2 separate regions of the Homo sapiens genome follow, and region 1 is linked to region 2. A link means that fine-mapping ties the variant in region 2 to the expression of a gene that starts in the linked region. Tissue or cell type: uterus. Region 2 holds a variant in brackets; the other region holds the start of a gene. All regions are shown on one strand. Distances are from middle to middle.

Region 1 (2,677 bases), 24 kb after region 2:
CCTTACCCTAACCAGCGTCCAGCGTCGTCTCACCGAGCCGTAAATAAATCAACAGATTCGCATTGTCTGCGCTTCTCTCCAGCCCCACTGCCTCGGCCTGAGCTCGGGCCTCACCTTTCCAGCCTGGCTGGGCTGGCACTCCAGGCTGCATGCAGCCACTTTCCTGTCTACCCTACCCGGTCCAGGTCCTGGACTTTTCTGGCCTCTAGGCCTGACCTGTCCTCGGAGCCAGGCACAGGGAGGGAGACAGGCAGGGCTCCTGGGGCTTGCTGAGAGTTGCTCCCAGTTCCGTGGGAGAGAGGCCACCCCCCACCCAGCACCCCTGAGGGGCATACAAACCCCTGAGGAAGTCTGGGTGTGCGGGGTAAGGGAGGCGGGAACTCCCCCAGGACCCCATCCCACCATCTCTGACCTCTCTGCCTACCTGGTTCCTGACCCCAGCTTCTCGACTGCCCCAGGAAGGAGGGCCTGGATCTGCCAGCCCCTCTTTCAGGATCTCCCTCCTCCTGGGCCCACCTCCCAGCCATAAGGAGCCCCCGAAACGGAGGGGTAGACAGAAGCCATGTGGGCAGCCCGAGAGACACATAGGGGTCCCCGGGTTGGCATGGCTGACTGGCTACGGACAGGCCCTTTGGGGCCCCAGCCCCTGGCCAGCCTTTGGAGGAACAGCTGATGGCTCCCGCTCTCCAGGGTGTCCCTTCTGGGCTCTTACCTTATCCTTGGGGTCCCTTTTAGTACCAAGGGCCTTTCTGTCCCCCCTACTCCTCTGCACAGATCCTGGGGCGTTAGTCACAGTGTGACAATGGCCATGATTCCCTGTACGGATGACAGAGAGGTGGCTCACAACCATGCTCCCTCTGTGTTCTCCCAGCCCTGCGGGGGTCAGGATGGGAAAGCTCTGGCTTATTTGGAGGAGGTCTTGTCATGGAACTCATTCTAGGGTGGGAGTACAGATGAAGGCCTGTGGCTTCCACCCAGCCCTGAGCTTCATGTGCATTTTGAGGCGTAAGGGGTGGGCTGGTGGCTGGTGCCCAAGACCCTCCTTCCCACCAGACCTTCCTTCCCAGCCTCTGAGGGAGACCGGCCTGTGGCCGTCACCTGCCTGGTGCCAGGCCTTCCTTCCCAGCCACTGAGGGAGAGTGGCCTGTGGCCATTGCTTGCCTGGTGCCAGGCCATTTTATCAGATCCTCAATCCTGTCAGCCAGGGCTATCCCTACTTTATGGACAAGGAGAGATGGCTCATGAGATGACACCGGCCCGCTCAGAGGCCTAACCAGCGAGCTTTGGGGCCAGGTTGGCCCCTACCGCCCGGACCCCAGCCCGGCTCCTTGACTGAGCCCGGCTGCCTGGTGACTCAGACCCGCAGAGTCTGCTGAGCGGGCGAGGGCCAGGGCGGGGTGCCAGCAGGTATAAGGCAGCCGGCCAGGGCGCCGACAGCCCGACCTCACCAGGAGAACATGCAGCTCGGCACTGGGCTCCTGCTGGCCGCCGTCCTGAGCCTGCAGCTGGGTGAGTCCAGGGGCTGGGGCCACCTCCTGCTCAAGGCCCCCATCACTCTAGCCCAACCACCGTCCCTCCAGCCCTGGGCTGTGACTGCCCACCTCGGGAGAACCCATTCCTGTCCCCCCACCATCTACCAGGTGCAGCTTTCCTCCGAAAGCCTCCTGCGATCCTGCAGGTCCATCCAGCTCAGCCCCAGCCCCCGACACTGGCCCCCACACTTCTCAGGATGCACAGCCCTTGGCTCAAACCCCCCTCTTCCTCTGCCCAGCCCCCAGACCTCTCCAGTCCACCGCGACACCCCTCACACACGCACCTTCGTGCACGTGCACACACACACTCTGAATGTGCCCCCCTCCAGCCCTCTTGGGCCTGGCCTCCCAGCTGGTTTGTCTCCTGGGGCCACCCTCCCGGGACTCCCTCTTCCCTCTTGCCTGGGAAAACCAAGTCCCTCTGCTCTCCCATCCCCAGTTCCTGCTCCCGGGTCCTCTCCTCTGCTCCCCGCTTTCCTGGGTGATTTTACCCCCTCCCCATCCCCCAACCCTCGACCCCCGCAGTGCCCACGTCTGCTACGGCTGGCCCTGTCCCCCCAGCTTCAGATCCCTTGGCCCAGGGCCTTCCTGAGGGCTCCAAGGGGATGACCCCTCAAGCACAGCTGTGCACACCTGGCCTTGGCATCCCCCAGCAGAGCCTGAACGTCTTCTCTTGGCAGGGCATCTCCACCCCCACCCTGAGGCCTCAACAAAACCAGCTGGCCCCTTGATCTGCCGGTGGCCTGCACCTCCAAGCCCAAGCAGCCCAGCCCCCCAGGGGCCAAGCCTCTGCGTCCCTGGCTGTGGGTTGAACGACCTGGGCAGCCCCTGCCTCCCAGGCCCTGAATGAGCAGGGGGTGGAGCGTCGGTGAGTCCCTGGCGCTGGCTCAGGTGTCTCTTACATCCCTCCAGTCTCCATCCCCAGGGGCACCCTCCTGGCCTATGAGAGGCTGAGCCGCTGACCCTGAGGACTGCCCCAGGGTCATGAGGGCAGACCAGCTCTGTGCTGAAGGTCCGAGACACACAGGGGCCTGGGGACTCGACTTAACCTGGAGAAGGCCTTTGTAACCATCAGGACTGGACAGGCAGTCAGGTGGCCATCCAGGCCAGGGATGGCACATCACAGGAGCCTCTGCCTGGGTGCC
Region 2 (2,677 bases):
CAGGATGTTCCCACAGCCGCCCTGGTCCGGGGCTGCTGCCTGCCGCTGGACTCCTGCTCCAGAAGGAAGAAGGCCTCCCAGCAGCGCCCTCGGCCTGCCCAGTGCTTCCTCTCAGCCTCCCGGGGCCGCTGCCCCCACCCAGCCTGCCACTGGTCTCCCGAGCCCGTGCCCGTGCTAAAGAAGCACTCTGCAGGGAGCGCTGTGCTCCCAAGCACCCAGGAGCAGGGAGCTCGGGTCAGCGGGAAAAGCTCCAGAAGCTCCTGCTGCCTCAGCGGGCTTCTCCCCCGTTATCGCACCTTGAGCTGTCTGGAGGCCAGTAGAGGGCCGAGTGGGTTGAAGGGACCTGAGTGAACCCCCTGGGAGCCAGGCTGTCAGGATTCCCACGGGCTCCCCAGCATAGCTTTCCACAGGCCCCAGCCTGCTGGGCTCTAGGGATCCACGGGGAGGTTGGTGTGCGGTCAGGTGCTCTCAGCCACCCTGAGAGTAAAGTTGGAGTTTTCTTTTCTCAAGGAAGGTGGGAATCCTGACTCCTGCCCGAGGAGCTTTCCCAGGCAGGCTGACTCAGGAGGGGCTCACCCTTCAGGGCAGGCCCCACCCTTGCAAGTCCCAACAGAAACCGCATCTGATGCCACCCAGCAGCCCACAGCCTCTGCCTGCAGGAGCCTCTGTGTCCAGAAGCCAGGCATGGCAAGGAGGCTGTTTCCACACAAAGCTGACCACAGCCCCTCGCCACAGGGGAAGAGCTGGGGCACAGGGAGCCCCACTCCTGGGTTGGTGAGTGCTCAGCTGCACCCCTGGGCCCTCCGGCTTCCACATCACTAAGTCAGCAGCTCTGGAGGGCATCTCCTGCACACCAGGCATCATGGCTCTCAGATGCCACAGTGACAGACTGTCCCTGCCCTCGAGTGGGCAGGTAAGAGTGGGCACAGCAGGCAAAGTGACAAGCTCATGTGGGCTGCAGCGCCTGGCCAAGGTGTGAGGGAGGCAGGAGGGTAGGAGGGACAGGCCTCGGGGGCCGTGGCTGGGGCCCTCTGGAAGGCACCAGTGTCTCTGACAATGAGGTCAATGTGCAAAGGCCCGGAGGTAGGACAGGGCTTGATGGCCTGAGAGGAGACCCGGGCACCGAGACAGAAGGGGGTACCCAGCCCCCCGAGATGGACAGAGCACACAGACCGCCCAGTCAGGGCCCAGAGGCAGGACAGGGAGGCTGAGAGTGTGGGAGAGCACTGAGGGGGTCCAGGGGAGGGACTGCATCCAACCCAAGTGCAGGGTAAGGAGTGAGGACTGCAGGGCGGGGCGGTGCAGGCAGAGGCAGGCACAGCCCCCAGCCAGGAGGAGGCAGGGCCAGACTGGGGCCAAGGGAGAGGCAGAGGGAGGGTGGAGATGTA[G/T]GCCTCTGGGGGCCCTTGCATGGCCTCTGCGGGTTTGAGGAGGAGCAGTTTGGGGGAGAGGTGGGGCTGAATGGGTTGGAATGAGTTACCCCTGAAATGCCCGAGGGAGGTCTGGGTCCAGGGAGGAGAGGCCACCAGGCTCAGCAGGGCTCAGGCTGAGATGTGCGGGACAGTGGAACCCAGAGCCAGCATTGTGGTTAGACCCTGCTGTCAGCAGTGCCAGCTCTGAAATGAAGGTGGGTGGGGCTTTCTCAGGTCCCTTCAGTGCCGACCTGGCTCCTTGTGACCTGGGCTGCCCGTCAGAGTTGCTCCTCTGTCCCGGGCACAGCTGCATGGGCTCAGGGGCTCCTGGGCCTCCATGCTCCTTCCATTCGGCATCTCCTGCTCCCCAAGGACCCACCCGATTCCCTTCTTATGTAACACCCTCTTGATCCCTTAAGCCCCTGGGGTCCTGGTGAGTTCCCTGGCAGGGCCCAGCATGGGCCTCTCTTCCCTCCCCTGGAAGCCTGGCCTGGCCCGGTACCCAGTGAGGACTGCAGCAACACGCACACCTCCTGCAGGGACAGCCCACCCCAGGCCCTGCCCAGGACCCAACATCCAAGCTGAGCAGGGAGCAGCCATGCTGGGACGCTCCAGCCTCAAAGCTCAGCAGTCACCTGATCCCAGGAGGAGCAAAGACAAGCCTCCTCCACCCAAGTCATGTGGTGACAACTCACATGGCCCTGTGGAGGTGCTGGTGCCAGCAACAGACTGAAGACAGGGCATGCAGTGCATGGAAGATAGTTCTTTCATTCCTAAGGGCTAGGATCCATGATGTCCCCCCAAGTTATCCTGTAACCTTTAAAAAGCATGTGTCTATGGTCTGGGTGTTGCCAGCCCCAAAGCTGCTATGACCTGCTGCAGACCCAAGGGTCTCGGAACCCTTGCCAGGATGGACTCCTTGGCCTTTGAGAATTACTGTTTTGTCAGGGGCAGGTGTGGGTGAATAGAAAAGGAAGAGCGGGGAGAGAGACAGAGAGACATCATTCTAACTAACTCCTAGAGGACACATAAGTGGTATAAGGGCAGTGCCCACTGGTGGGAACACTGAGTTGGGGACAGGCCCTGGAGGGACAAAGCCACTGCAGACCACCAAGTAACCCTTGCCTGAGAAGCGCGGAAGGCTGGTCCGAGGTCTTGCTAGGACTTCCCGTGAGGGAGCTGGTCTGCACTGACTCATGGTGGGGAGTCCTTTGGTGGGACAGGAACTCCTACAGGGCAAGGGAGGACCACAGGCAGAGTAAGAAGAA

Alleles and levels. Alleles are on the strand shown, and positions count from the first base shown. SD is a standard deviation of normalised expression in the study named.
For the expression in uterus of the gene that starts at base 1,436 in region 1, allele G in region 2 goes with a lower level than allele T (moderate effect, 0.55 SD a copy in GTEx).

What was found. PIP is the estimated chance that this variant, and not a neighbour inherited with it, causes the effect. A credible set is the group of variants that fine-mapping cannot tell apart.
Region 1: it holds the start of SLURP2, and the variant in region 2 is the best candidate, but not a certain one, in a credible set for the expression of SLURP2 in uterus (GTEx, PIP 0.69).

What each region holds. Positions count from the first base shown.
Region 1 is chr8:142,768,587-142,771,263 of GRCh38, reverse strand. It overlaps SLURP2 (secreted LY6/PLAUR domain containing 2), which reads left to right and starts at 1,436. Exons shown (of 3, transcript NM_177458.3): 1 at 1,436-1,509. The coding sequence starts at 1,458. All of the region lies in intron 3 of LYNX1-SLURP2 (LYNX1-SLURP2 readthrough), which reads left to right. It overlaps LYNX1 (Ly6/neurotoxin 1), which reads left to right. Exons shown (of 4, transcript NM_177477.4): 4 at 1-62.
Region 2 is chr8:142,793,017-142,795,693 of GRCh38, reverse strand. No RefSeq gene overlaps it. Among named protein-coding and RNA genes, the nearest start is that of LY6D, 7.8 kb to the right of the region's middle. The variant G/T (reference allele first, on the strand shown) is at 1,389.